Regions from separate parts of the Homo sapiens genome. Here all the other regions are linked to region 3. The links come from fine-mapping of genetic effects on gene expression. A gene starts in region 3. Each other region holds a variant in brackets. All regions are shown on one strand. Distances are between the middles of the regions.

Region 1 (7,608 bases), 70 kb before region 3:
GAAGGGAGGGGTGAGGAGAAAGGTTCGAATGATCTCTAAACACTTGACACAGACAGAACTCATTGTGGGAGGGGAGAAGATAAAACCATAATACACGTTTGCAGAGAAGCCTCCAGCTGTGGCAGCGCGTCACTCCAGGAAGCACAGGCTGGAGGAAGGGGGAAGTTTCCCGAGCACCACTGACAGTACTCCCGGTTCCGAGGCTGGATTTCTATAGCAACGGACAGCAGCTTCACGGGAAGTCACGCTCCACTGTGCTCCCATCCCCTCAGTAGGACAGGGACCACTCTCTGTCACCTAGGCACTGCTGTCCAGGGGCTGGGGCACTGGGAAGGGCAGGGACTTGGCCCAGGGCAGTGGAGCCAGGCAGTGGCAGGGGTAGGAATCCAACTCCAGGCCTTGGCCAAACCTACCAGCCACACTACTGTCTGTGTACACACTACTGGCAGGGACTGTTGCCTGGTTAACCATCACCTGTCTCCAAACATGAAGCACAGGCTGGCAGAGGTGAGCCATCCCCTAAACCCAAGCCTTGGGATTCATTCCTCCTCTCAGGCAGAGGTGAGCTGGCCATTAAAAAGCCGACCCCCAAGGGGAAGAAAGGGGTGTCCAAGAAGCAGACAGAAGCCCCGTGGGGGAGGGCGCACTCAGCAGACAGTTCCAGTACAGCTGACGCAGGGACCCGGCAGCCTGGACCAGGCACAGCCTCTCTGGGCCTGGGGTGGTCGCAGGATGTCTGAGGAAGGCTGGGCTGATTCATCTTTATGGTCCCTTCCTCCCAGGGCTACGCAATTCTGTGAGTCTGTGGATGTACAACCTGAATGACCAGCCCACAGGACAATTAAAGGTTCCCAGGAGCTGAAAGAACTTCATTCCAAGTAGATTATTTCCGCAACAGCCCAAAGCAAAACAACTCTCCATAAACCTGAGTAATCTTCATAGGTGGGAACGAAACTGGATTTCCTTTAATACACCAGTTCATCCTTCCTTACCCCTTAGTCCATGCAACGGCAAATTATTACGCTCGCAGTGCTTTGCTTGTATTTTCCTTGGAATTTTACCAAAAAACAAAAAATCCCTTACTATTCTACTGCTCTTTCCATTGGTGGCCATTTTCTTACAATTCTAGCTGTTGTCAGTGGAACAGGTGCTGGTTCTGGACTGCCTGATAGGCTTACAGTGGCTCCCCTCCAGGCCCAGTGCCAGCAGCCCTGCTGCAGAATAACCGTCCTCCCTTCATGGGGCAGGAGGAGTGAGGCGTTGCTGAAGGCAGAGGCTGAGACCCTGAACTCCAGGCTGCACTGTGCTGTCTTAGCCTAGAAGAGGGGTCTTGGTGTGTCCCATGCAGCTTGGAAGTTGTGGCAGGGAACCGAGAGGGATAAACTTCTCATCAGAAGGGACACATGTGGCCAGGAAGGAGCACTTGGCTTCAACGATAACATCGGGATTCTTCAGATTTAGCAAGAGGACCCTGATTGTTCTCATCTAAATGTCTTCATTTAAATATAAATCTCTGAAATGGGGATTATTAGATACCTTTCAAACAGTAAGGTGAGGGGACCAAAGCCGGGTAAAGTGGCTGTCAATGGTCAACAGGAAGTAGCAGCTAGAAAAAGCCAGAAGCTCTTGTTGGTCTCCTCACACCATAACCCCCGTGAGGGTAGACACTGAGTGCTCATGTCAGATGTGTTTGAACCAGAGTGACTCCATCTTGAATAGGGTAAAATGAGGCTGAGACCTACTGGCTGCATTCCCAGGAGGTTAGGCGTTCTCAGTCACAGGATAAGACAAGAGGTCAGCATGAGATACAGGTCATAAAGAACCCACTGATAAACAAAACAGGATGCAGTGAAGAAGCTGCCAAAACCCACCAAAACCAAGATGGCTACAAAAGCCACACCTGGTCATCCTCACTGCTCATTATATGCTAATTATAACACAATAGCTAAAAGACGCTCCCATCAGTGCCATGACAGTTTACAAATGCCATGGCAACGTCAAGAAGTTACCGTAGATGGTCTAAAAGAGGGAGGAACCTTCAGTTCCAGGAAAATCCCTGCCCCTTTCCCACGAAACTCATAAAAAGCCCACCTCTTATTTAGCATATGATCAAGAAATAACCATAAGTATACTCAGTCAAGCTGCCCATGCCACTGCTCTGCCTATGGAGTGGCCATTCTTTCTTCTGTTTCATTTTTTTTTTTTTTTTTTTTGAGACAGAGTCTCGCTGCATCGCCCAGGCTGGGGTGCAGAGGCGTGATCTCAGCTCACTGCAACCTCCACCTCCTGGGTTCAAGCGATTCTCCTGCCTCAGCCTCCCAAGTAGCTGGGATTACAGGCACGCACCACCATGCCTGGCTAATTTTTGTGTTTTTAGTAGAGATGGGGTTTCACCATGTTGACCAGGCTGGTCTCTTACTCCTGACCTCAGGTGATCCGCCCATCTTGGCCTCCCAAGGTGCTGGGAATACAGGCGCTCTGAGCCACCATGCCTGGCCCTGTTTATTTTCTTAATAAACTCGCTTTCACTTTACTCCATGGACTCACCCTGAATTCTTTCTTGTGCAAGATCCAAGAACCGTCCTTTGGGGTCTGGATGAGGACCCCTTTCCAGTAACACTTGGGCAATGGCAGATGAAAGGAGAAGAGGCCACAGACAGAGGTCTGGAAAAGACGCACGCAACGACATGCAAGGTGTTTTTTCTATTAAGTCATCACTGAACAAATTCCAAGGAGAAAAAGGTAAAATGGATGCAGGAGGATTAGAATGAAGCACTACTGCTTGTAAAACAAATCAAAACTAAGAACCTAGGAAACGATAATAATGCTGTTTAAAGACTTGAAGGAAATCTCTATTTCCAACAACGTCAACAGAAATCAAAGGAGAATATATTTCACTTTTCAAGAGTGAAAGATAATAAAAGTCAAACCCTATACAACATCAATCCTGAGCCAAATCCTATCTTATCTCTACTTTTTTCTTCTCCTTTTCAACGTGTGTAGCTAAACCAGGTTGCAATCTAGAGCTGGACTCGTCCAGAAAGCCTGGCAAACATCCACAGCTGTGACAAGATGCTGACGAGCCTGTTGCAGTGGGGTCTTGATGCTTCCACTGGGGAGGAATCAGGAGAATGTAAGTAAAAAGCAATGAAACTTCTGCAAATAATTAAGTAATTCACATCCACCCCTTGAAGAGAAAATAATTCCTCCCTTGTCACTGTGACAGCCTCGGCTGGCTGCCCAGCTGAGAACACCCAGCAAGCACCCTCTCAGCAAAGCCAGGTGGGGAGGGGAGAGGTCAGCCACTGCAGCCTGCAGGCTCTCTGACCATGGGCACCTCCACAGCAGACCCTCCCAGCCACCAAGGACATCTGGCCCAAACACAGCATGAAGCAGAAGTGGCTTCGGCCATATCCACCACCTCTGTGCAGGCTGTCACACAGAACCAACCCCACCCCAGCCTACGTGAAGCTCCATGCTGGAGCCCCAGAGCAGCGGGACAGATCACTGATTCCCTTCTATGAAGCATGTGTGCCTCCCTGCATCCACTCAGGCTCCAGTGAAAAGCACTATTTGGCTCCCCCAAAGCTTATTGGGTGCAGGCGGGGGTGGGAACAGTCCACACGCCTCAGCTCCACTCCCCAGGGAAATGAGTATGAAAACAGGAGCTCCAGCAGGAAAGAATCAGCCTTTTGGTTCAAGGAAACGGTCTCTTAGCTTCGGAATAGCCCACTGACTATGGAAAAATGCTCTCGCCCCCAACCACGCAGGGCCTGTGTGTCTGGCTTCGCTGTCC[G/T]TGAGGTGAAAGCATCCGTGAAGCAGAGTCCCGGCTGAACTGCGGGAAAAGCAAAATGCACAGACGGCCGGCTCTTCGGTCTGAGGGTGATTTCAACCTGTTCTTGTTGAATGACCTTGGACCAGATAAATGCCATTGAGCTTCCCGTACAATGGCACTAGCAGCAACCTCTTCCCACTCGCCTCTCTCCAAGTCCCTGTGAAGCTACAAACAAGCGGTGTTTGGAAAATTCTAATAATAGCATCAAAGCGGAACGTTGCCCCCGTTATTTCTGAAGTCCTCTCTCAGACCCAGCGCTCCTGAAGGGGCGCGGCAGAGCAGAGCCGCTGCGGAGTGTGTGATCTGAAGACAACGCCTCCCTCATTAGGGCTGGACATATTCCGACAGGGCAGGCTGTGGCTCTGGATGGGGGGCAGTGAGGGGGTGCATGCATGTGCTGGAACTCACATCCGGGAGAGAAAGCGCGGCAGACAGGCCTCACGAATGAATGTGTGTTTTGAAACATTAGGTTCGATGTCTAAAGAGTACAATTCAACAACTCAGGCCACCAGGAACAGGCCCCACTCTCTCCTGGAGCTCTATGGCAGGGTTATCAGAGGATGGCTGGTGCCAGACATGTGCTGACAGGGATCTGGGACAGTCAGACCAGAAGCAAATGATCAGGCGCGACCCAATCAACGTGGCACTAAAACAATGCGTGCAGGTTCGATCATAGTTACCTGACCCACCCCCAGAAGAGTGAAAACCTAAATTTCCTCTGCTCTGTCACCCTCCAACTCCTGAGAAGATGGGAAGGAGGTGACGCTGACTAAGTGCCTCCTCTATACCCAGGAAACTCTGCTAGGGCTTACACATGCAGCTCATTCAATTCTCCTGACAACGCTCCAGAATATATCCTTTTATCCTCACTTTACAGAAGAGAAAACTAAGGATCAGAAAGAGAGCACTTGGCCAGGTACAGCAGCTCACGCCTGTAATCCTAACACTTTGGGAGGCGGAGGTGGGGAGCTCGCCTGAGACCAGGAGTTCAGGACCAGCCTGGGCAACACAGTGAGACCCCCATCTATAAAAAAAAAAAAAATGAAAAAGTTAGCCAGGCGTGGTGGTGCACACCTGTAGTCCCAGCTACTTAGGAGGGTGAAGCAAGAGGATTGCTTGAACCCAGGAGGTCGAGGCTGCCACACCACTGCACTCCAGCCTGGGTGACACAGGGAGACTGTGTCTCAAGGAAAGGGAAAGGGAAAGAGCATTCATCTGAGATCCCTCAAGTGATAAATGGCAGAGACTGAATTCAAATCCAGAGCCGAGCCTGCCAGACTGCAAAGGGCCCCCCACACTCAGCTCCACAAGGGAGCAGGAAGATGTGCATGTCATTAAGATCATTTTGTGCCTCCACCTCCCCGCCGTGTGATTTCCACACAGAAACCTGATTCGGATGGCTTCTGTGGCTCATGCCTGACAATTCACCGAAAGAAAAGTAAAAAGCACCTCAGATGAATTCAGAGTTTCTCTGTTAGCACAACGGAAATGAGATGAAGAAAGCTGGAAAATGGTTTCTCTTCTGAAACATGCATCGCAAAGTAGAATTACAAAGAGAAAATAGAGCCACAGGAATCGGCCCAAAATGAAGATTCTGTATCATTAGAGAATAAAATATGGGTATCCATGACTGTCTTCCTCTACACCCCTCGCATCCCCACCCCCGAGTCTAGGACACTGTCTCTACCATTTCTCACCCCCCATGAGAGTCAGGACCAAACACCAATTCCAGGATGCATGGCTTTTCCTGTTCCGACATCTCTGAAATGGGGAATGCATCTTAAAATTGACAAAATGATGGTGCATCTTACAACCCTTAGCACCTAAAGGCTCAAATTAATACATTAATATTGCTTTGAAATTATGTGAGGGCAATGCTTTAGATGATTTGAAACACTCTCAGATACTTCCTCTCATTTAAGCCTCACAACAGGCAGGCCAAATAGGTTTTTAGTTCACACTGATCATACTTAAATACAGCGGAGAAACTGGCTGACACAGACAACTCAGTGATTTGTCTAAGCAAGTGGTAGCACCAAGACTGGCCTTGGATTTTCTGAGCACTGGGTCCACGGGGAGGAATCCAATACTGAAGTGCAGATGACACGGGAGAGATGCTGGTGGGCTTGCCCCGATACCTCACCTGCTCGCTGCTGTATCACCCCACGCCCAGCTCCTCTCAGTCACACAGCCAAGCAGGCGAAGAGTACAACTGTGAAATGTCTCATGAGCTGATACAGAAGGAGTTTATAAATATTGAGCACTACTGGCCTTAAAAAAAGCTGCTCCTCTCCACCAGGTCTGGGTTGGATACCCTCCTCCTGGGCCCAACCCAGAATGAGGGGAGGTTTGAGAGGGATACACCACAGATAGATAGATACAGCTTCTCTGAAACCAAAGAAATAACAAATGGTTGTCTCACCTGAACAACTGGTTAGGAATTGGGGGAAGGGGATAAAACCAACTTAGAGCTGCACTTCTCAAAAATACCAAATAGGCCAGGTGCAGTGGCTCACACCTGTAATCCCAGCACTTTGGGAGGCCAAGGCGGGCGGATCATGAGGTCAGGAGATTGAGACCACCCTGGCTAACGTGGTGAAACCCCGTCTCTACTAAAAATACAAAAATTAGCTGGGCATGGTGGCATGAGCCTGTAGTCCCAGCTATTCGGGAGGCTGAGGCAGGAGAATGGCGTGAACCCGGGAGGCAGAGCTTGCAGTGAGCTGAGATTGCGCCACTGCATTCCAGCCTGGTGACAGAGTGAGACTCTGCCAAAAAAAAAAAAAAAAACAGATTCAGGTGGATGAAGAGTTAAATATCAAAATCAAGCAAACCAACCAAGTATCAGAGTAATATGTAATTAAGTATTACTTACCTGATCTCTGGTTGAGACAAGCATTTCTAAGCTTAAAAGAAATGGAGGAAACCAGAAAGCAAAAGGATGAGAATTTAACTACATAAAGTTAAGTCTCCTCTCTATTTAAAAAAAAGGAAAAGTGTGGGGAAAATATTACCTAAAAATAGACAAAGGGTTGCAATTTGTAATATTTATTAAACAGCTAACACAAAGTATGAGAAAAGCAGGCTACGGGATCAGGTAACACATGAGACACTTTTCAGTTCAAGGGAACTAAAGAAATCAAAATTAAGGCCAGGTGTGGCGCTAATGCCTGTAATCCCAGCACTTTAGGAGGCCAAGACAGGCGGATCACCTGAGGTCAGGAGTTCGAGACCAGCCTGGCCAACATGGAGAAACCTCATCTCTACCAAAAACACAAAAAATTAGCTGGGCGCGGTGGCGGGCGCCTATAATCCCAGCTAATCTGGAGGCTGAGGCAGGAGAATTGCTTGAACCCGGGAGGTGGAGGTTGCAGTGAGCTGAGATCATGCCACTGCACTCCAGCCTCCAGCCTGGTCGACAGAGTGAGACTCTGTCTCAAAAAAAAAAAAAAAGAAAAAAGAAATCGAAACAGAAACGTCAACTACCACCTAGGCAATAAACAAAGATTTTATTTGCAAATATTAACGATGTGGCAAAGGTACAAAAGAGTCTTCTGGTCTGAGTGTAAACTTGTACAACCTTTCTGGAAAAGAGCTGAGAACATCTATCAAAAGCCTTAAAAATGTTCAAACTCTCTGACCCGGTAATTCCACTTTTAGAAATCTATTCCAAGGACATAGTAAAGAATGTATTGCAAAGGTTTACATAAAAAGGTTCATCATAAGTTACAAAACCAAACTAGCTAGGTAGATTGGACATATCCATACAATGT
Region 2 (7,608 bases), 210 kb before region 3:
TTGGGAGGCCGAAGCTGGCGGATCACTTGAGGTCAGGAGTTCAAGACCAGCCTGGCCAATATGGTGAAACCTCATCTCTACTAAAAATTCAAAACATTAGCCAGGTATGGTGGTGAGTGCCTGTAATCCCAGCTACCTTGGAGGCTGAAGCGGGAGAATCGCTGGAATCACTGAGGCGGAGGTTGCAGTGAGTCGAGATTGCGCCGCCACACTCCAGCCTAGGTGACTCCGTCTCAAAAAAAATAAAATAAAACAAATAGTATCTGAAGAACCTCAGAGACGCCTGGATGGAACCGAAGAGCCCCAGGTAACTGGTAAACAAGTCTATAAATCTTAACTACTTGAAAAACTGTAAAAATATTTGTCCCCTGGTTTGGAGCACAGGGTCTGGGTGCGAGTGCCAAGGGCTGGCTCCAGGCAGGTACACAGGAAGGACGTGACCTTGAGCAGGCTAGCAACTTCCTTCACCAGCTTCCCCTGTGGCTGTAAAATGCAAATGTATTTAAGGGCTTGGCTGGGTGCCTGGCACATCATAAACACTCCACAAATGATAATGATTATTATTACAAGTAAGAATAACCAACCAAAGGGCACAGCAATAAAAGCGCATCTGCAAAAGGTGATAAGAAACAGCCACTGAGCAGGAGCTGCAGAAGGCTGACCCCAATCCCAGTCCCCACACCCACCCCACCCAGCCCTCACACACCAGGACAGACTCTGGCCAGCAAAGAGCGGTATCTAGAAAGTATCTTCTCTTTATTTAAGTTAAACAATTTTCAAGGATGGTTTCCATCTATAAAATGGACAAAGTACAAGCTCTGTACAGCAGTTCTTTTTAAAAATCAACTGGAAAAAAAAATTACCAAACTATATTTTGAATTTGCAAAACATACTCACAGATACCATCATCTGAGCTTTTATGAGGACATAAGAAAGGACCAGCACAGAGAAGACAACTAACTTCGGCACGCTTTGCTCGAAGGGCTCTTAGGAAAGAATTCTGAGTTTTAAAAACAGGAGTGGGAGGGTGAGATAGTCCTGATGATTAAAAACTAACGCAACCGCAGTAAGTCACTTTGGCACACTGTGTCATGTAAACATAGCTCACCGCAAAGGACCCCTCCCCGGCCCACCCCTGCTCTTGACGCCCGGACCATCCAAAGCCGCCTCCCAGCTCAGGGACAGGACGCCGCCCCCAGGGCATGGGCCGCACAAGGGTCTGGGTAGACACGTGGGATGATAGGAAGGCTGAGAGGGCCTAGGGGTGCGGGCGGGGTAAAGGTGAAGGGGCAAAGGATTCGTCAGAAAACGTGATTTTAAAACGAGCCAGATTCATCCATTTCCCTCCTTACAGTAGTAGCAGCTCGCAGGTCACAGGGTCTGACAGAAGAACCTGGGTGCTGGGGGCTACGCACACCCTGCTCTGGCCTGCACTCCACAGCCTCGCACAGGTACCTAAGGGGGTTTTCCTCAGGCTCCCCCCGAGCGCCCACCGTGAAAGACAGAAGCGTGCGGAGTTACTCCAGCGTGGGGGCACGCTGCCCACTCACAACACATCTGGTTGCATGGCAGGGGAGGCGGGAAGAGAAGACCTATAGGGCAGCCCTCCAGCCAGGCTTCCACCTCGGGGCCGCTGTCCTACAGTGCACACATGTGGGGCTCCCGCCGGGGAGGAAGACACACAGTGGCCCCTTTCATACAAGACACAGGGAGGAGCATGGCACCGGCACAACCTCCCAGGGTGGCTCCTAACTCCAAGGCCGCCGCTGTCCCACCGAGGGGCCTGCAGGTGTGCCTAACTGACGCTTTTCTCAGACTGCCAGGCCGTGCCAGCCTCTCTGAGACTGAGCATCTGTGTGTGCGGCGCTGGAGAAGGCGGCCAGGAGTGGAGGAGGAAGCAGGGCACCGACCACAGAGTGGCAGGGGTGACGAGGAACATTCCTGAGCACCCAGGTAGAAGCCAGGCACCTCTCCCCGTTATGACTTTCAGTTCATAACTGTCTGTGGTTTAACAGGACCCCAAGGCTCCTGTCTCCCGCCCTGAATCCTCAGTGTAAATGAGCAGGTATTGTTTGGTTCTGACCCTTCCTAATTCTTTCCCCAAAGCCCCCTGAAGCAGTCATCTTGGCCAGGCGGGGTGTGGGAGGGAGCTGCGGGCGGGGCAGGACTCGCTGCCTGGCTGGAGCTCCCCAGGCCAGCAGGTGTGCAGGACTGTGAGCCAGGCCTGTGCCCTGGCTGACGGGCTCATCCCTGACACTGCTGGCCATTAATTCTGAAGGCCCAGCGTGCAGGGCTCAGATCACAATGAAGCCAATACTAGCGTGTGACAGCTGCCTGGCATCATTGGTCTGCCCTGTCGCCAGGGGGCAGCGGTATTGCTGGCTCACACAGAGCTATGGGGTATGTCTTATATTCCTTAGAGAAAAGAAATTTAATGTAAAAAGACCCAAAGTGATATCTGTCAAAATAAGTAACCGCTCCAGGTTCACAGATACGCACAGCACGCAAGGTGGATTCTGACGCACAGTAGGGACTCTCAGGCTGACGCCCAACAGGGATGCCGGGGCCGAGGCCGGTGGTCTGGAGGAAGCCCCCCAGCTGGCCACAGCAGTAGCACCAACTGGCTGATCGGGCTCCAGGGGACAAAGGCCACCTCCTCCCTCTGTGAGAAACTGGCCCCACCGGGCTCTGGCCCCTTCTCCCGGAAGCTGCGAACGGCTTTGTGGGGAATATACAAGATGACGATGATCTACAGAAACCATAGGGAACTGACCGTACATTCTTTCTCTATATAGCTTTATATTTAGTGTCCCACCATAGAAAACTTCATCCTCAATATAGCAAGTACATGAGGTGGAGGGGAGTCTGGCCCAGGAAGACACTTGCGAATGGAGGAGCAGAGAGAGGGACTATTGACGTAAACCTGCCACGTGACACGACTCGGCTTTGTGGAAACCATACGTGATTTCGAAGGGATTGAAAATGGAGATTTCAAGAGTTCTCCTCGCTCCCCTGGGGCATGTGTGCCCCCTCCTCCCGCCCTGTCCTCAGCTCGCACGCATCCGTTCAGTTGCTTCTACCACTCCCCAGTCGGTTGTCGCTGGGTGTCACTCAGTTGCGGAGCCGGCAGAAGTGAAAGCTGGAAGGAAGAGGGGCGCTCCGGCCTGGGGAAGGGGGCCCGGCTGGGCTGCACCGAGAGGAGGGGGAGGGCAGTTCTCGCTTCTTGCCGCTGCTGTGTCTGCACAGTCGTCCGTGCCTTGCCGAAGTTTGACTTTCAGACCATGATGGAATACTGAGGTATATTAGTTTCGC[G/A]GAAAGTTTAAGAAACATAATCAATAATGTGATCACCAGACTCCACCCAATGGTGCAGGAGACAGGACGGCAGGGCCTCCCGGACCCTCCTACTGCTGCAGGTTGAGCGTGAACTTCCACTGCTGCGAAAGGGCCGGGCCACACACCTCCACGCTTAGGCCCCCGCTCTTGGCCGTGCGACTGTCCAGGCACAGGTTGCTGCCCACGTGCCTCAGCTTGGAGTTGCCCTCGATCTGTTCCCATTTCTGCAAGACACAGGAGAGTGCCTTAGAGTGTGGGCACAAGCAAAGGAGTACAAACAGATTCGTGTGAATTCAGGACCTTGTGGCTGCATTAAAAACTCACAGATAGACACGTTTTTCCCAGCCTCTCATCTGAACGGCCGAGGAGCTTGCAGCAGCCCCACAGGAAACCAGCCACAGGTGCTGCTGGGACCCAGGAAGGAAACATATTCTCTGCCTTGGATCAAAACTCAGAACGTCTCCTGCCCCAAACTTTCTGTGGGTGTCCCCTCCTCTGAGCCCCAGAGCTCTGGGCACCCACCCCTTCGTCATTAACACAGGATTTGATGTAGGGGAATTTGCATGCCTTCGTATGAAAGCTTGATCCAGTGATGGTTCACCCCAAGAAGGGATCCACACAATGCAGGGCCAGATCCTCCCCTGGCTGTTGGAAAGCAGCCCTGCCTGGAGGCCTTGGTCTGGGCACCTCCATGCTCCCACTTAGGGCTTTCTGCTCGGGGGAGCCAGAGGAACGGTGTCAGGCCAAATGTCAGGAAGAGAGATGGTTGTTTGAACAGAACATAGCATTGAGAAGCCTATTTCTATGTAGTCTGTTCTCTACTGGTGTGCAAGCTCCTTGGTGGATATGAGAAACTTGTCTCTGCTACCCTTGAGCCCCCTGGTGCTCTGTATGGCAGGGACCAATGTTTGCTGAGTTCTGAACATGCCGCTTGTAAAGTACAGGGTACGATGCCTCTTTACTAACACTCAAATCAAGCGAACAACCAAACTCAACCCACATACCCGTTACCCACCAACTAAGCCAGAATCAAAGTGCACAACCCAGCCTGAAGGAAATCTGAGGAGCCCTGTTTAGCAAGTAACATAAATACCCCTTTCAGCCTGAGTGCAGGCGGCTCACGACACTAATCCCAGCACTTTGGGAGGCCGAGGCAGGAAGATCGCTTGAGGCCAGGAGTTCAAGACCAGCCTGGGCAACATAGCAAGAACCCATCTCTACAAACATTTTTTTTAAAAAAAATTAGCAGGGCATGGTGGTGCATGCCTGTTGTCCTAGCTCCTTGCAGGCTGAGGTGGGAGGATCGCTTGGGCACAGGAGTTCGAGGCTGCAGTGAGCTATGGTCATACCCACCCCTGCACTCCAGTCTTAAGCAACAGAGTGAGATCCTGTCTCTTAAAAAAAAAAAAAAAAAGAAAGAAAAACAGAAAAATCCCCCTTTAAAAATCTCTAATGTTTGTTCTTAAAAAAAAAAAGTAACATTTTTTTCTTCCCCAAAGCTCGTTTCAAATAATGAAGTCTGTGGTTCTAATTAATTTTTTATACTGTGTGCACGAAAGCTCCTTCACCTAAGTATTTTTTGCAAATCCTTTTGACATTGCAGAATTAAATTTTCTCACTCCTGCCTCCCTTTCCCCTTTGACTCTGCAAATATGCACAACATATGAAAACATGGACGTGCCTGGAAACCAAATGTTCCAACTGGCAAAGCCAGTTCAGTTCCAAGATAAAATTTGCTAAGGAGCTTCCTCTTGAGGGGCCAGTGAGTGAGGCAGGGAGGAGCCGGTGCAGGCAGAGGAGCCCAGTGCTGGGGACCCGACCTGCGCGAAACACCACAAGGATGTTGTCACTTGTACCCTGCTTTCCTTATTTCCGTCCACCTGCTCACCTGGAGTTCTTGCCAGCAGGGAAAGACAGTGCAATCAGAGGAGCCGGGGAGGCTTTTGCTAAGTGCCTGTCATTGCCTCTTTCATTTCCAGCTCCCTCGTTGCTGTCAATCACCCCTCATGCTGTTTTTCCCCATTGTCATGTAAAGTGTGTATGTATTGAGGCTGCCCTGTTACTCTGAGCAGCCAGGAATCTTCTCAACAAAGAATTCGGAATGAACGGAATCTGATTCTGGCCACTGGAGGGACTGCCTGTCATGTGTCAAAGCATCAGCTAAATCAAGAACCTTAGAAAAACAACAACAAAACCCCAGCTCCGTCTCGCACAGGTGGCCTTGTGGGCTCTGATCTGTCTGTCTGATGGGATTGTGGTTGGGGGTGGGGAGCGCAGATTTTCAAGGCAGTCAGACTCTACTGAAACAGCCCCCACATCCTCTCTAATAGCCTGAGTCTTGGGGTTTAAAACCTAACAGATCCCCATTTATACATGCCATACATCCAGAAAAACTTATTATTTATAGGTCTTTTCATGCTTCACAAAGGTCCTAAGCCGTGTCAGTTATGGTTCCCCAAAACTGGGACTGAAGCAGAAACACCTGTCAATTCTTGAAATTAAGCAATATTGAAGTAATATTTGTTTTTTAAAAAGGTGTCAACTAAAGTCATCACTTTATCAATCCATTACATCCAAAGACATCTCTGCTCCGTTACATCCCAGGGGAATGTGTTTGAGACTCACCCAGTACTTGGCTCAGCAGATGCCAGCCTTGCCCTCGAGGAGCTTCCTCTCGAGGGGCCAATGAGTGAGGCAATTTCTAGGTGGTTTGGGTCCAAGCGGTGCTAGCCTTCTCTTGTTTAACAGGCACTCCCTTACACATTTTGGTATCAAGTCATCAACACAGATGGACATTTAGAGATGCGGATTGTGAGCAGAACCCTAGAGAGGGGCTCCCACTGCCAGGACAGGCTGGGACTCTGCAGAGCAGGGAAGGAGGAGCACCCAGAGCTGGCGCAGGGGTTTGGAGACAGACAGGTGAAAGAGGGCCCTCTGCAGGCGTCTCCCTGACAACTGGGGTCAGAACCGGGGACTCGGTCCTGGCCTTGGTCTTCCCAGATGACTCCAGGGTGGAGGCAATGACTTTCTGAGACTTTTCTGTTGTGAAATCAGGGTTAGACTAGAAGCTGGCTTAGGCTCTTGGCTCCAGTAGGTTCTGTGCCTCAGTTTCCCTACATCCCATCTATCTCTAAGGACCGACTGTAAGAACAGGGGCAGGCACTCCAAGTATGGGCATACAGGGAGGACCTTTTGTGCTTGCATTTCTATTCCTGACACTAACTGTTACCCCATGCCTTGAGAAAGGGTGTGTCCACAAGCTGCCACAAGGGAATACGTCAGAGAAAACCGGCTTACAAGGCAGGTAGAAAGTCTATTCTGAAATGTTTAAAGAAACTGTGTGTATATGTGTGTGTGTGTATATATGTATATATATGTGGTGTGTATATATATGTATATATCTGTGGTGTCTATATATGTATATATGTGTTTATATATGTATATATATGTGGCATGTATATATACGTATATATATGTGGCATGTATATACGTATATATATGTGGCATGTATATATACGTATATATATGTGGCATGTATATATACGTATATATATGTGGCATGTATATATACGTATATATATGTGGCATGTATATATGTATGTATCTGTGGTGTCTATGTATATATGTGGTGTTTATATATGTATATATCTGTGGCATTTATATATGTATATCTATGTGGCATGTATATACATGTATATATGTGGCATGTATATTTGTATATATATGTGGCATGTATATATATGTATATATCTGTGGTGTATGTATATATGTATATATATGTGGTGTTTGTATATATATATGTGGTGTGTATATGTGGTGTGTATATATATGTGGTGTTTACATATGTATACATGTGGCATGTATATATGTTGTGCTTGTATATCTATGTGGCGTATATATATGTGGTGTTTATATAAATGTAGCATGTATCTATATGTATATATATGGTGTGTTTATATGTATATATATGTGGCGTTTATATATGTATATCTATGTGGCATGTATATATATGTATGTATCTGTGGTGTGTGTGTGTATATGTATATATATGTGGTGTTTGTATATATGTATATATGTGGCGTGTATATATATGTGGTGTGTATATATGTGGTGTTTACATATGTATATATGTGGCGTGTATACATGTGGTGTTTATAGATGTATATGTGGCATGTATATATATGTATACATATGTGGTGTGTATATATATGTGGCGTTTATATATGTATAAATGTGGCATCTATATATACGTATACATGTGGTGTGTATATATGT
Region 3 (7,608 bases):
AGATCCCACCCAAAGTCCCCCACCCTTGGACTCTCGGGCAAGGGCCACAGGACTCGTGCCAGCTCAGGGAATAAGGGTGATGCTACTGTGCAAAGTGGACAGGCTCCCAGGGCTCCGGATCATGTCCCTCAACTAACACCGTCCCTTACCTCCCAGCATGCAGGCACACAGGCAAGGGGTCTCAGGCTCCACACACTCTTACAGCAGAGAGAAAACCCTTCCCTTTCCACCCTAAACAGCCACACTTCACCCACAGGCAGCTTCATTTCCAGAGAAATCCCTTCCTCTCTTCTGCGGCTCCATCCACTGCCAACGTACCAAAGCCCAGGGGAGACTTAACATGGTTAAAATTTTAAAGCATTTAAGAAGCTCAAAGGAAAGGCACGCTTGAAGTGCAAATCATCAATTTAGGGGGAAAGAGCAAAATATGGGGGGAAAGGGTATGGACACAAATGTAAATGAAACATAATTTTAAACAATATTTTGAATAAACTGCTTTAACATACATGTCCTGAGCCTGGGTGTTGAGTCCCGAGTTGTGCGGCAGTGCCTGAGATTGGTCTTCAGCACTCCCTCCTGCTTAGTTTACTAAACCTGCAATCTGAGGTGAGCTGGCTCTCTGGGTTTTGCCAAGTGGAGAATAACAGTTCTGTGATGAGTTACTTAACAGGCAGGGCACACAATGACAAGCCTGGGCTGGGCTGCTGAAGCAGCAGAAATCCTAGTTGGACTCCCCTCAGACGATCCCTAAAGCCCAATACTGCAGCCTAGTACCCTATGAAAAACGTCAGGATGTGCAGAAACTGGCTAAATATGGAATAAAAGCCCTGACTTGAACAGTATGAGGCAAGAGAAAAAATATAGGTCCACTTATCTCTAAAAAAACTATAGCTAGCTTTTAAATTCTGCCTTTCTGTGCATGGCCCGCTATCTTTTTTTATGTCCATACTTTACAAGCCAAACAAACCACATTTTTTTTTTGGTATGAGAATGAAATAAATTTAGAGACACTTCTAGTGTCTAAATCCATGGAAACAATTGGGGAAGAAAGAAGACTACACGATTTTCCTATACATCAGGCATTCGTGACAGCAGGGCTCTATTTACCTCCTTCAGAAACCATCTTAAGGCTTCTCTTTAACCCTGGGTCCACCACACGAAGTTAATGAGTCTTCCACTGCAATTTCAAAAGCTATTGCATTTACACACCTCTTCCTCAACCGACAAATCACTAAAGCATCCTAAGGGGTAGCATTAAATTTTATGGTTCGTTGACAGAAAGAATAGAATCCCAAATCACCAATCCATGTGTAATTAATTGTTCATTTCCCCCACTTTTTCTACCTGGTCTCCGTACCTGTCTATATTGCCACCAGGAATTCTTTAAAAAAAACAAAACAAAACAAAACAAAACAAAAAAAAACAAACTAAGAATCACACACTTCAGGAGTGTCTGAAGACTTCTGCATGGAAGACCCCTCACACCATCCAGGAACTGAAGCCCACCAGAGTGAGGAATCAGCCTCCGGGAGGCGAACGAGCACGCTTGCTCTTTCTAATCACGTGTACTAATGAAAGTGGCAGACTAAGGAAAGAGAAACGCCAAGGGTGGCTTATGTGTTTGGTTTTCTTTGCATGAAAGGCAGAAAGCTTTGCCAGGTCTCACCAGCACACCAGGCTATGCAGAGTGGCCAAGGCACAGTTTACCGGGAAGCAAAGTTTTAAAAATCATTCCAGTTTTACACGATTATATCTCTGAATGGACTGCACGGCTTTTGCTGCCTGCATGCTCTTTGCTGTTCAAGAATAAACCAAGTCTTCGCGTACATATACTACCTATACCATTTTTTACAAAAACAACGCTAAGAGTACAATGTCAGCTCAGAAGCTAGGCCGATTCAGCACGTGGAAAGAGGGCTTTATTTCTGCCCTTCTAGATAAAACAAATCCACGTAATTTACCAGAAACCACATAAGGCACCCATTCCACCTAACATCTTCGGCTATGAATGAATGAATGAAGCAAAGAAAAAACCTCTGAAGCAGCCAAACCCCGGCGTGGACATTTAGGGGTCTGACTTCAGAACTGAAGTCTGTTCATCTAGTTAGTTCCCTCTGGCTTGTTTCAGGATACCACTCTCTTGTTCCAACCCAACCACCCGTAGTCCATCTCCATTAACTCAGAATTTTCTGGGTTTGCGGTGACACTAAATGTCACAGTAACGAGGGTTACAGGAATTCGGAAAAGATAACGCTGCTTTCAAAGCCGAGGAGCCAGTAAAACACTACAAACGTCCCCTGCCGGCATGCTCCAGCACACAGCCCGACGCCCTGCTCTCCCGGCCGGCGCTCGGCCGCAGGACCGCGCTGTCCCGGCTCCTCTCGGCGCTCACCATCCTCCCGAATGCCCAGGGCCCGGCCGTCCGGAGCGGCGGCACGAGGACGCGGAACCGCAGAGCGGCTCACACGGTCCCCACAGCCAGATCACTCGGCCCCTGGAGCATGTTAAAAACACAGCCACAGAAGAGGGATTCTCCCTGAAGCGGGGAGTGGGGATGGAAAATGCAAGCGCAGGAGGCCACGTCCGGCTCGCGCGGGAGGGCCGGGGGCCGGGTTGGGCAGAGGGTAACGCTGGGGCCGCAAGGGAACGGCCGGGACTGGCCTCGCTCGGGGCGCAGGGGCGCACTGGCCCCTGGCTCGCACGGGCCCTGGGGCTTTACTTGGCACGGGAGCGGCCGCCCCTGCCCCCCAAAGGTAAAGGGCAAAGAAGGTGGCAGAAACACGGAACCCACGCCCCGCGGAGTGACAGGGGGAAAGGGACGAGGATTTGCAGCCGCTGGTATCAAAGGGCTGAAAAGAAACTTGGACTCCTCTCTCCTGCTGTACATGACGCGTTGGAAAAGCGGTCGCCTCTCTCTCCTCTCCTCCCCACCCCCTTTGTGTTTCCCAACACCCCCATCCCTAAACTTCCAACCGCAGGGGATGGGGCTCCCGGCGGCCGGACAAGACTCGAATTACGACGAGCAGAGAGAGGGGCGACGTCCACGAGAGGGGGCAGAGAAAGGCTGCGGGGGCCGCCCTTTCGGAGCCCGGCGTGCGCAGAGGGGCCGGGTGCACCCCTGCCCTGGGCACTCGGCGCGGAGGCCCGGGACGAGGGCGGGCGACGCGAGCGGAGGTCCGGGCGGAGGAGCGCAGGGGCGGCGCGGAGAGGGCAGGGGACAGGGGCGCAGGGTGGGGGGTGGGCGCAGGGGCCCGGCCGCGGCAGGGCGCTCCACTCACCTTCCTGCCGGCGCCGCCGCCCGCGCCCCCGGCCAGCGCAGAGCCGCCCCCCGAGTACATGTAGTAGGCGATGCCCAGCACCCACAGGAAGGCGAAGCAGAGCAGCATCCGCGAGCGCCGCCGCATTCTCCCAACTCGGCCGCCGGCGGGGCCGCCGCTGCTCGCGAGTGCTGCCTGGGCCGGCCGCGGGCGCGGTGGGGGCCGGGGGAGGAGCGGAGGAAGGGGAAGGGCGCGGCGGCGGCTCCTCCTCCCGCGCGGTGCTACTGCTCGGCGGCGGCGCGCACTCGGCGCCCGAGCTCCGCCCCGGGCCGGCGGCGCCGCGCGGCACCAGAGCAGGAAGCAGCGGCCTCGGAGGCGGCGAGGGGGGTCAGGGAGCAAAGGGCGACCAATCGGCGGCGGCTGCGGGGGCCGGGGCGCGGGCCGCGGGAGGGGACTGCCGCGTCTCCATGGCTGCAGCACGCCGGGCTCCGCCGTGAGGGCCTGGGCGCCGCCCCGCCCCCGGCCGCCCGCCCCTCAGCGTGCTCCCCCCGCCGGCCGCCCCCTCCCCCGTGAGTGACAGGTGGCTGCCCCGGGACCCGACTGGAGCGCGCGCACACGTGGGCAAAGAGCCTTGCTCACGCACACGGGGCCTCTCGATTACGGGGGCGGTAGTGGCCTCGGTGCTTCCTGCCCAGACTGTCACCTCTTCAGCCTTGGTCTTTGGGGCCACCTCAGACCCTTAACGGGCTTGCTCTTATTGGCCAACTGACCTGAGTTTTTGGTGCAAACCGCCCGCTTGAACCCGACTTTGCTGCTGCTTGCTGCAGTTTTCTCACTAATCTTGCAGCAAAACATTCCTGACCCGCTGGTATCGATTTTATTTATCTATATAGGCAGATGTGGAGGTTTTGAGTTGGTAGGAACTGAGAAGGTAATTTTCAAAAGAACATTTTTCTGTGGGTGACAGAGCTATCAATGGTAGAGTTGTTCTTTTCAATAAACACAAAATGAGGAAGAAGGAAAGCAATAATATATTGTTTAAAATCTTTTCTTTCTCATTCGTTGCGTTCTTTAAAAAGCACATTAAGCATCTTTAACGATACAAGAAAACGATCTGTCTTGTAACATAATCTATGTAACCTTGGTGATGCCCTTGCAACACGCAAAGCTTCCAGTGTTCCTAAGAAAGACAGAAATTTTACTTAGAACTTGATATATTAAATGTTTTCAGGAGCTTCTCGGTCAGAGGATAATGGCAGCTGCCTGATATAAGTCCGTACCCATATCCTCAACGAAACAAAAACAAGCCTTCAGCATTACTTAGAGAGAATGCCATGAACTGAACATTAAATTACTTAAGTAGAAGAAAGAAAAGATACCAAATTCCAACTGAGCTCCCTCCACTATTGCCAAGGACTTAAGTGAAGTACAGGGTTGTCACCTCTTTATAAATAGAAAGTCCAACACCAAGAACTAAAAACTGAACAGAGGTCAGGTGCCTTATTGATCAAGGGAAGAGATTTGAAAGAAAATGGGACAAGAGGTGAGAGGCTTGAAGGAGCCTTGTTTCTGGGAAAAAGTCAGATAAATACGAAAAGAAGATAATGTCCTTCAGAGGCCTGACAATGAAGGGAAAGAAGGAAGTCAGAAGGGAAAATTACAAATCCTGCAGAAATGAAAGAGAAGACAGCCAGTCCCCTCCCCAAACACCAACATTATCTATTAAAAACTGCATTTCAGTACACAGATAAAAGAAAACACTCTTGAACCGGGAACCCTGCCTCAAAATGCCTAGTAACAGAAAAACATCAAATCAACTGCATTTAAAGATTCTGCAAAAAGAAAACAGAAATCACATTTCTGATGATAAAAAATAAATCATAACATTTTCGCTGATGAAAACCCCCACAATAAAAACCATGAAGCATAAGAAAATTGTAATACCACATGTCAAACTGAACAAAGTGTCACGTATTTGTATACACATACACACACACACACATATCTAGGATAAGAAATTTCAAGAACTGAAGACAGACTAGACAAAAATTAGGAAGAAATGCAACAAGGGTTGAGCAAATTCAAGAAGGAAATTGAAAGTAATGACAAAAACTATCCCAGAAACAAAGAATAATTACAAGGTGTCCAAGGGAAAATATATTCAAATGAAAATATGTAAAAGGACACTGAAGAATGGCAAGAAAACAATCAAGAAATTGAAAATAATATAAAGATAGAAGTAAAAAGGTTCAGAGAGAAGAGGTTAAAATAAAAGCCAGGAAAGGAAGACCAAAATACATGTTAAGTGGAGTCCCTAAAGTACAAACATTAAACAATAAAACCTAATTAATATTAAAACTATAACCCCAGAAAATAATCCAGGAATAAGGGAAAATTTAAATGTACATGTCAAAAGTGACTTCCATGTACCTTGGGAAATGATCTGGAATTATCAACTCCTAAATATATTTTAGTAAAACGATTAGATTTTAAAGGCAAAAAAGATCAAATTGCTTATAGAGATAAAAATTTATGCTGGCATCAGACTTCTGAACAGCAACATGCAAAGCCAGGCAACAGTGGAGCAGCATTAACAAGGAACAAAAGTGCCAGGCAGGCTGGGCATAGTGGCTCATGCCTGTAATCCCAGCACTTTGGGAGGCCAGAGTGGGTGGATCACCTGAGGTCAGGAGTTCAAGACCAGCCTGGCCAAAGTGGTGAAACCCCATCACTAAAAAAAATATGAAACTTAGCCGGCAGGTGCCTGTAATCGCAGCTACTCGAGAGGCTGAGGTGGAAGAATCATTTGAACCCGGGAGGCAGAGGTTGCAGTGAGCTGAGATCATGCCATTGCACTCCAGCCTGGGTGACAGAGCGAGACTCCATGACACACACACAAAAAAGTACCAGGCAGTGATTTTTATACCCAGCCCTCAAGTGTCAAGGTTGTAGGCAAACAGATATGACCTGAATGCAAAAATTCAGAGAACGTGACTCACATGGGCCTTTCATGAGGAATCTTAGAGAATGAGCTTCCTCCAACCAAGAGACAGCTGAGGAAGCCAGCAGAGTGACTAATGGAGAGCATTTTGTATATTCAGAAGGTGAAAGACTAGTGTATATACATTATACTTTCTGATAAACTTAGAACAGGTGCAACTAAAGACAACTGGAGGAGAAGGGGAAGAGCGAAGGGAAAATAGAATAATATCATTGTCTGCAATATCAGTAGCAGGTAGTAGTGAAAGGATACCATATAAAACAGACAGACCAGATGTTAAAAGGTTAGAAACAAAATATAGGAATTAAGGGTAATATATTAAAAATATAAATAAAAATCACTACAACAAAATATATGTATTCCCAAATATTGGAAACCCTATTCCAAAACCCCAAAAGTTCTAAAAATAGCAAAGAATACATACCAAATAATGAAAGAAACACAGTAAGTGTGGCACAGTGATGCAGTAGTTATAATAGGAAACAATATGACACAGCTGAGACCAACCCACATCAGATATAACAATTTATAAGTGGGCTCAGTTCACCCTTTAAAATAAAAGATTTTCAAATGTAGGCATAACGGAAACCCCAACTCTGAAAAAGCAGGTGCTGTGATTCTGATATCAAACAAAACAGAGTAGGCCAAAAAGCATTAAATGAGATGAAGAGGGACAATTTATAGCCCAAAACTTCCCTTCCTAAACACTTATCAATTGTATATCATTAGGATTTGATCTGCAAAGTAAAATCATTATTAGTTTGATGGAATAAGCGATGTATGATAGAGATTAAACTTTAGACAATGTTAGAGGTAGAAGAAAAAAGGTTATGGAAGTCTTTCCATTGTACATGGGGCAGGTCTGAAGTCACTGTAGTTTCTAGACCTGGGAATCAGAAGAATAGCTAGATGTGACATGGGGCATTTCAAAGACAAAGTCAAAACTGCAAGGACAAAATGTACCTCATGAGAACAACTAGAATTCATGAGGACAAACTGTAATGTACCTCCAGTGTTGATTATGGAAATAAAAAACAAAACACAACAAAAACCCACAGTGAGATACCACTTCATATCCATTAGGATAGCTATTATATAAAATTTTTTTTTTTTTTTTTGGTGGACACTTGCTCTGTCGCCGAGGCTAAAGTGCAGTGGCACAATCTCGGCTCACTGCAACCTCCACCTCCTGGGGTCAAGCCATTCTCCTGCCTCAGACTCCTAAGCAGCTGGGCCTACAGGCATGTACCACCATGCCCTGCTAATTTTTGTATTTCTAGTAGAGACAGGGTTTCACCATATTGGCCAGGCTGGTCGCAAACTCCTGACCTCATGATCCACCTGCCTCAG
Region 4 (7,608 bases), 87 kb before region 3:
AGTTTCCAGTTTTGGCAAATATGAATAATGCCATTATGAATCCCAAGAGCACATAAATTTCCATTTCCCTTGGATAATATCTAAGGGTGGGATTACTGCGTTGTATGAGAACATGTGTTTAGCTTTATAAGAAACTGCTCAACTATTTTCCAAAGTGGTTGTACCATTTTGCATTCCCACTGGCAAGGGATAAGAGTTCCAGCTGCTCTATGTCCTTGCCAGTACTTGGTGGCATTTTTGCTTTTTTTCCCCCCAAAGCCACTCCCCTAGGTGTATAGTGACATAATGCAGCTTTCTATAAGTTTGCTATAATGGTGCTTACGACACGCCAGGTATCATGCTCAATGGTTCACACACATCTCAATTAATGCTCACTCAATACTACACAGTAAGTTCCAATGTTTTCTCTGCTTTTAAATGCATCTAAACTGAAGTGGCATCTGAACCAAGGTCAAATGACCACAGTACACGAGGCCTTAAATGAGAGCCCTCCTGGGATGGTCTTATTTACTCCTGCAGGGATTCTCCACAATTCTCTCAGGCTCTGACTCAATGTTACCTCTTTCGTGATAGTTTCTCCAAATCAAAACATAATACAGCCCAGTCTGACCTTGCCTCTTACTGCACTTGATCAGCTCTCTAATGATAGAACCAAAGTATTTTCAAAACAGTTGATGTTTCTTATCTCCCAAACAAGACGGCTAGCTTCCTCAGGCCAGAGGATCTGTCTCCCCAACATTTCATCTTCACATTTTAGGGACTGACTGAAATGAATCAGAGTGTGTAGACAGTGTTCTGACATCAAAGGATGAGATGTGCTATTAAAAAAAACCACCACCAACTTGCTTACCATGGCCCCGAGTTCCACATTGCTTTCTAAAGCCACAACCTGCAGGTTACATTCTGCCCCTGCATTAGAAAGTTAAGCAAATTTAACTGCAGAAAATGTGATAGTTTAAGGGCCAAAAAAATAAATTGATCCGTGACAAACGATAATAAAATATCCAGCATCTAGGAAGCATGTTGAAAATGCTGGCAACTTTATGAAGGAATAATCAATTTTAGGAAACGAACGTTGAAGGTAAAGAAACGCAAAAAGGAGTCTCTTGAGTGAACTCACCAATGAATATATCCTACCAAGGACAAGCTGACTTCCCTAGGATGACATTGCAAACCAGTGTGGAAGCCAGAAACAGGCCTAAAATGACACGGTGAACTTCAGCCATGTAACCAGCCCAATATGTACAATGCAAGGAGTTTTCTCCCCAAGATTCAGGATCCAGGTCTTTGCTGTAAAACACACACACACACACACACACACTCTCTCTCTCTTTCTCTCTCTCTCTCTCTCTCTCCCTCGTCTGCTCCCCCATCCCAAAACCGCACCGTCTCCAGACATCAACCCCAGAAGGTCATCACCACCCAGAGGCCAGGTCTACGTGGTATTCCACTTGTATCTAAAATCAATGACTCTCTCTTCTCTTCCCCACCCTAAAAACACAAAAGCTTTACTCTTCTATCACCCACCCACAGACTGAGCCCCATGACCAGGACACAGTCTCTCCCACCCAGACAGAGCCCACCACACAGGCCCTTAGCACTGATCCCATGGTTTTCCTGATCTGACACAATAGTTCCCTCCCCTCTCCATGTGGCAAAATCACTACAGAATTAGTCCTTTTAAAGCAAGGCTTTTGTCCTCCACTCAGAACTCCTGAGTGAACTGGAGGTTGACGCCGAATGTCTTAGCGACCCTCAGAGTGCCCTCACGACCTGGCCCTCAATCTAATCTCTCTCTTCCAGTCAGGATGGGCCATTTGTGATCTTCTGTGGGGTCCTTTGTGCTATGCACTTGGGAGCCCAGTTTTGGGGTTATAATCACTCTTTCTCTTAGAAATGGTCTTCAAATGACAAAAGCTCCAGTCCTCACAAAACCTAGCTCTGCCCATGGGACTGTCCTGGGAGAGTCCTGCCCTGTCCCTCCCAGCCCCAAAGGAGGAGACCCTGTCCTGATTCAGTCATTCCTGATCTGTTTTGGAAGATCCTGAAAGAAGCTAAAATTTCTTTATCTTGACCCTCTCTGAATAAGGCAGTTTTTAAAACAGCTACAGGTTGAATTGTATTCCAATTTTCAGTTCAAGGACAGCCAGCTGAAATGATGACCGGGATTAAGAGATGAGCTATAATTAGGGAGAGGCCGGTCTCTCCCGGAGGTCAGCGGCTGCAGGCAGGGCCCACCTCCGAGCGAAAACCTGCAGGGAGCCCTAGGCAGCCAACGAAGAACAGGGCGGGCAGGAGCCAGCACAAGGGCTCTCACAACCCCATGCAGGCCCCAAACGGTGACTGCCTCAGGACTTCCGCTCCACAGATGTGAGAGAAAGTGACGCTCTCACACAGAAGGGAAACCGAGGACCTGGGAAATACTTCCGCAGAAAACTGCACGCGGAAACGGGGTGGGGGGTGCATGCGGCGCGGGGCAGCCTCATCTGGGAGGACCCTGATGTTTGGAAACCAAAGCCCCAGCCCCAGACCAAGACCCCATCCAGCAAAGACCCTGTGGTCAGAGAAAGTCTTTTTAAGTGCTAGTACGTAAATATTAGAACTGCAAGGGGCCTTGGATGTCATGCCAAATGATAAAACCACAAGTTACCAATGTGATAAGGTGAGTTATAAATAACCTGACAGAGACTACCTGAGTAAGTATGCCAGGGCTGCCATAATAAAGTACTACAAACTGGGAGGCTTCAGGAACAGAAACACACTTTCTCACAGTTCTGGAAGTCTGCGCTCAAGGGGCGACAGGGTTTGTTCCTTCCGAGGGCCATGGGGGAAGATGCTGTTCCAGGCCTCTCTCCTTGGCTTAGAGGTGGTGCCTGTTGTCTATTCTCTTGTCACTGTCTTCCCTCCACGTGTGTCTGGCTCTGTCTGAATCCCCCATTTCATAAGGACACCAGTCATACTAGAGCCCATGCTGACGACCACATTTTAATTTGATTATATCTATAAAGATCTTATCTCCAAATAAAGTGACATTCTGAGGTCCTGGGGGTTAGGGCTTCATTGTCCCATAATACTACCTTCTCTCCCAGAAATTTCTCAGAAGGGGCAGAATAGGCAAATATAAGGGGGTCCAGAGATCTCTCACCTGTGCCGGTTTGGCACATTCCTTCTGACTCAAGATTATTTCTTAAAAATACCAACGGCATCAGCTCTGTACCAACTCGGGGAAAGCCAGAGCAGAGGGTGATGAGCTAAAGGGCCGGGGTTTCTTTTCTAGTAAGAATGTGGCCCACGTGGAGAAAAACTTATCCACTGTGGACGAAGGGCCTATGTCTCCACTGCAAGTGCAGGGTGGACGGCAGCTTGACTTCTGACAAGACTGAATGGTGAAATATTGAAAATGTACAAAATCCACATCCCCGTTGCACAATGGCAATATGCTCTTGGCCTCACAGCTCACCA[GACAC/C]TGATTATGCAAGCTCTTTTCAAAAAGCACTGAGGCCCCAAGAAGCTAATCTGACAGAGACTTATTATTCTCCAAACAATGGGTGAAAAGAGAAACCATTTCTGAGTCTTTATAAGGTAGACACCCACGCAGACAGACCCACACGATAAATCTGCATGAGAGTTTGTAAGAGGCACTGGGCACCAGTAGCTTTTTTGTTGTTGTTTTGTTTTTACCAGTAGCTTTTATGAACATATCAGTTCCACCAGACCCCTCCACAGAGTGAATGGTGAGTGCCACCAACCAGGGGCCCCCGAGGCCACGCCAGGAGGCCCAGGAGTGGGAACAAAGGCTGTAATCCATCTCCAAGAGCGGAGTGGCCTCGGCCAGACAGACTGAGCTCACTGTGTCTGACAAAAGAAACTTTTCACAACTGAGACCTCTGGGTTGGAATCATGAAAAGAACTCAGGGGCGTGGGGCTGGAAGGGTACTTAGGGGCCTGATGATTGGTGAATCTGGAAGGCGTCCTCAGATGTTCTCGATGAATTAATTCCCCAGCCCTTTCAAAAAACACCACCAAGGCCACTGTAATGCTTGCTTCTACACAGAAAGCATTATGGGTGTTTTTTCTTTTTCTCTAATACATGAAAATGTGCTTACTGTGATTAAAAATAAAACTAAAAACGCAAAGAGACCCTTAAAATGTTGAAGGCTGACCCCCCATCAATGACTGTTTAAGTGTGTAGGTGTCCAGTCTGACTACAGAAACACTCCCGCATGTAAGGAGAAAAGAACCGATCATTAGCAGACATCTGAGTTTGTCTCAGGCATGGCAATGGGCCTATTCATTTTCATTCTCTCATTTAATTTTATCTCATTTAAATGTATTCAGGCCAGGGGCAGTGGCTCAGGCCTATAGTCTCAGCTACTCCACAGACTGAGATAAGAAGATCGCTTGAGCACAAGAGTTTGAGATTACAGTGAGCCATGATCACGCCACTGCACTCCAGCCTGGACAACACGGTAAGACCTCATCTCTAAAAATAAAAATAATAAATAAAATGTAAATAAGTATTCAGAAGGACTGAACGCAGTTTAGCCAAGTCACCAAGTATTGATTATGCTTCACTCACAGTGGACAAACACACTGAAGGCACAGAAAGATGGAGTGATTTTCCCTAAACCACAGCCAGAGAGAAGGCCATAGATACAGGCAGCAGGGCAAGAAGCTAAAGCCTGAGGAAGCAAAGGAAGTCCAAGAAAGGTGAGCAAATGAACATCACGTTAGAGCCAAGGACAGGGCTGGCGCAGATGGTCACTGCCTCACAATGACAAGCGGTTCAAAGAGGAAGCTACCTGAGAGTGGACGCAGGCTGAGGAGTGTCCCACTCACACAAAACACGAGTCTGTGTAGGAGAAGGATTATCTAGTTCTCTCATAGCTTCTTCTTATTTCCCTCCTGGCTATGCACTATCCTAGCAGCTTTCAAACTTTTTTGCCAAAACCCATAGTAACAAATAAATTTGATGTAGACATCCATCCCCCAAACCATGTATTTAAATATATACGTTATATAAATACATGCACGCCCATCCATCCACATACGGTGTCATAAAAGGGTACCTACTCTTACATGTATGATGTGCTCCAGTATTTTCTATTTAATTATTCATCATGAATACTGATGTTATTCTCCTCTATTAGTTTCATGATCTACTGAGTCACAACTTACAATTTGAAAAACCTTGCCCTCATCTTTGAAAGAGTCAGGTTCGAGATTCTAGCCAAGTGTCGGATGCGCTTACAGGCCATGGTTCCAAGCCCGACTGGGGATTCAAAGAAGTAAAAGGGAACCCATCAGCCTGAGCCCCCTGAGAGCTTTACTTTTGTCAGAGGCATGTGAGCCAAAGCAACTCCATCTTGAATAGGAGTTGGGTAAAATGAGGCTAAAACCTACTGGGCTGCATTCCCAGACAGTTAAGGCATTCTAAGTCACAGGATGAGATAGGAGATCGGCACAAAATAAGGTCATAAAGACCTTGCTGATAAGACAGGCTACAGTAAAGGAGCCGGCCAAAACCCACCAAAACCAAGATGGCCACAGGAATGACCTCTGGTCGTCCTCACTGCTACACTTCCACCAGCACCATGATAATTCACAAATGCCATGGCAATGTCAGGAAGTTACCCTATATGGTCTAAAAAGGAGAGGCATGAATAATCCACCCCTTGTTTAGCATATCATCAAGAAATAGCCATAGAAATGGGCGACCAGCAGCTCTCGAGGCTGCTCTGTCTATGGAACAGCCATTCTTTTATTCCTTTACTTTTGTAATAAACTTTTCACTTTGCACTACGGACTTGCTCTGAATTCTTTCTTGAGCGAGATCCAAGAACCCTCTCTTGGGGTCTGGATCGGGACCCCTTTCCTGTAACACTGGTTCATCTGTAGTTGAAGCCATCAATGAACTGAGGAGCTCTGCTTTCCTTCCTTAGCTTACGTGGTGGGCACAGGGACATGTGGGGAGATCCTACAGAAGAAGGCACTGCTGTAGAGAGAATCAGAAATTCTCCTCCCAGGGCTATCTTGGGGAGGCCGGGTAGTCAGAAAATCATTGCTTCTTCAGGAAACAGCACTGTTTACAAAACAACTAGACCATGCATTACTTCGAGGGCATCATCCTGTGCCCCAAAGCCACCTTACATATCTGGCTTGGCCATCATCCTGAGCTTCCTGGAGGCACTACGTGGACAATCCGACCCTCATCTTCTACCATCACCCTGTCACGGGTGTGCAGCGCTGTGCTGCGATGTCAACGGTGGTCAGAGCAAGTGACACAACAGTGCGTTCTACTGGGACACTTCTCCAGGGGCCTTCCCTCCAGGAGGACATCCCGGAGGTCCAGAAAGCTGCAGGGGAATGGAGGGAAAAGACAACGGTGGCCACGGTGATCGTCAACTGTAATCATTATGTTGGCAAAGCTATAAAATCAAACCCAGGACACCACACAAGATCCTGAACATATTTCCACAAGAGGAAGAATATTGTGCTCCAGGCAACCCAGGTAGTGCACCTTAAATAGGAAAGAGTTCAACAAGTCACACAAAGTTACAGACACCTGCATGCCGGGTGCACCAGCCTCGTCCTGAGGAGTTGAGAATGGTGGCCCTGGCTGGGAATTCTCTAAGTTGCTCTGCCACTGGGAAAATAGATTCCTTAGGGAAGCAAAGAAAACGATGGATTCCTTTGTGCTCAGAAGACAGCAGGCTTCCATCCAGAAAACTGCACAGTCAGGGCCAAGCAGTCAAAGCCCCCATTCTGAACGCCAAATCCCTGGGTGGGAAAAGGAGTGTGTGTCTGTGCCTCCCGCCATCCTAGAAGGCCAAGGAGAGGCTGAATGTCGCAGCGCATTCTCTAATGAGGAGCCAGGCACTCCAACTGCTCCACAAAGGTGTCTTAGACAGAATTATAAGTAGAGCTTAAGGTCTAAAAACAAACAAACAAAACAAAAATGCTCTACCAAAGAGATGAGACTTTCCTTTCAGAATCAAGTCACACATCCCTCCCCAATTTCCAACTCCAACTCTAACAGAGACATTCACTTCTCTGCAAAGGTTGCGGACAAAAACAAAGCGGGCAGAAAGAGGAAGTGGAAGGAGTTGTTGTACTATGTCTTTTTAAAGCAGCTGTTGGAAACCGTTTCAAAGGTTGAAAAAGGATTTTTGTTTTATCCAAATATAAGTTTCTGAGAAGAAATATGACACCTTGGGTGATGTATGAAGTCATGCCTTTGATTCCAAGCCTGTCAAGCCTCTTCTGAGTGTTACATCTCAGGCTTCCTATGGTGAGGTAAAGAGGGAAGCTTCGGTACAGAAAAACGGCAGCACACGGAGGTAGGCAGCTTTGCAGTCACCAAGCAGGCGATGGCTCTCCTGGCCCCAGGGCGGAGCCAGTGCATGTCTTTTAAGCCACTCATGGGCTCCGCATCCAGGAATGGAGAGCACCCTCCTAGGTCTCTGCCTCAGCAGCCCCACAAGCCCACCCAGCCATCCTCACCCTGGGGTCCATCATACTGTGTGGCTGTCAACCTCTATTATGGTATAATTAAGAAAGACACCAACGGTGTTGAGAAGCGTTTCTGAGAATTAAATCAAGAGTGAG

The links.
Region 1: its variant is fine-mapped to the expression of GALNT2 in thyroid (GTEx, PIP above 0.99).
Region 2: its variant is fine-mapped to the expression of GALNT2 in whole blood (TOPMed, PIP above 0.99).
Region 4: its variant is fine-mapped to the expression of GALNT2 in whole blood (TOPMed, PIP above 0.99).

Annotation. Positions count from the first base shown.
Region 1 is chr1:230,133,130-230,140,737 of GRCh38, reverse strand. The region is part of intron 1 of GALNT2 (polypeptide N-acetylgalactosaminyltransferase 2); the gene reads right to left. Among named protein-coding and RNA genes, the nearest start is that of GALNT2, 70 kb to the right of the region's middle. RefSeq lists enhancers at 1-442, 2,820-3,320, 3,321-3,821. The variant G/T (reference allele first, on the strand shown) is at 3,797.
Region 2 is chr1:230,275,252-230,282,859 of GRCh38, reverse strand. GALNT2 (polypeptide N-acetylgalactosaminyltransferase 2) reads right to left here. Exons shown (of 16, transcript NM_004481.5): 16 at 738-3,557. The coding sequence ends at 3,402. Among named protein-coding and RNA genes, the nearest start is that of PGBD5, 150 kb to the left of the region's middle. RefSeq lists an enhancer at 401-560. The variant G/A (reference allele first, on the strand shown) is at 3,313.
Region 3 is chr1:230,063,077-230,070,684 of GRCh38, reverse strand. GALNT2 (polypeptide N-acetylgalactosaminyltransferase 2) reads right to left here and starts at 3,447. Exons shown (of 16, transcript NM_004481.5): 1 at 3,279-3,447. The coding sequence starts at 3,404. RefSeq lists enhancers at 1,638-1,717, 4,072-4,231 and silencers at 2,632-2,691, 3,132-3,941.
Region 4 is chr1:230,149,958-230,157,565 of GRCh38, reverse strand. The region is part of intron 1 of GALNT2 (polypeptide N-acetylgalactosaminyltransferase 2); the gene reads right to left. Among named protein-coding and RNA genes, the nearest start is that of GALNT2, 87 kb to the right of the region's middle. RefSeq lists an enhancer at 7,115-7,344. The variant GACAC/C (reference allele first, on the strand shown) is at 3,463.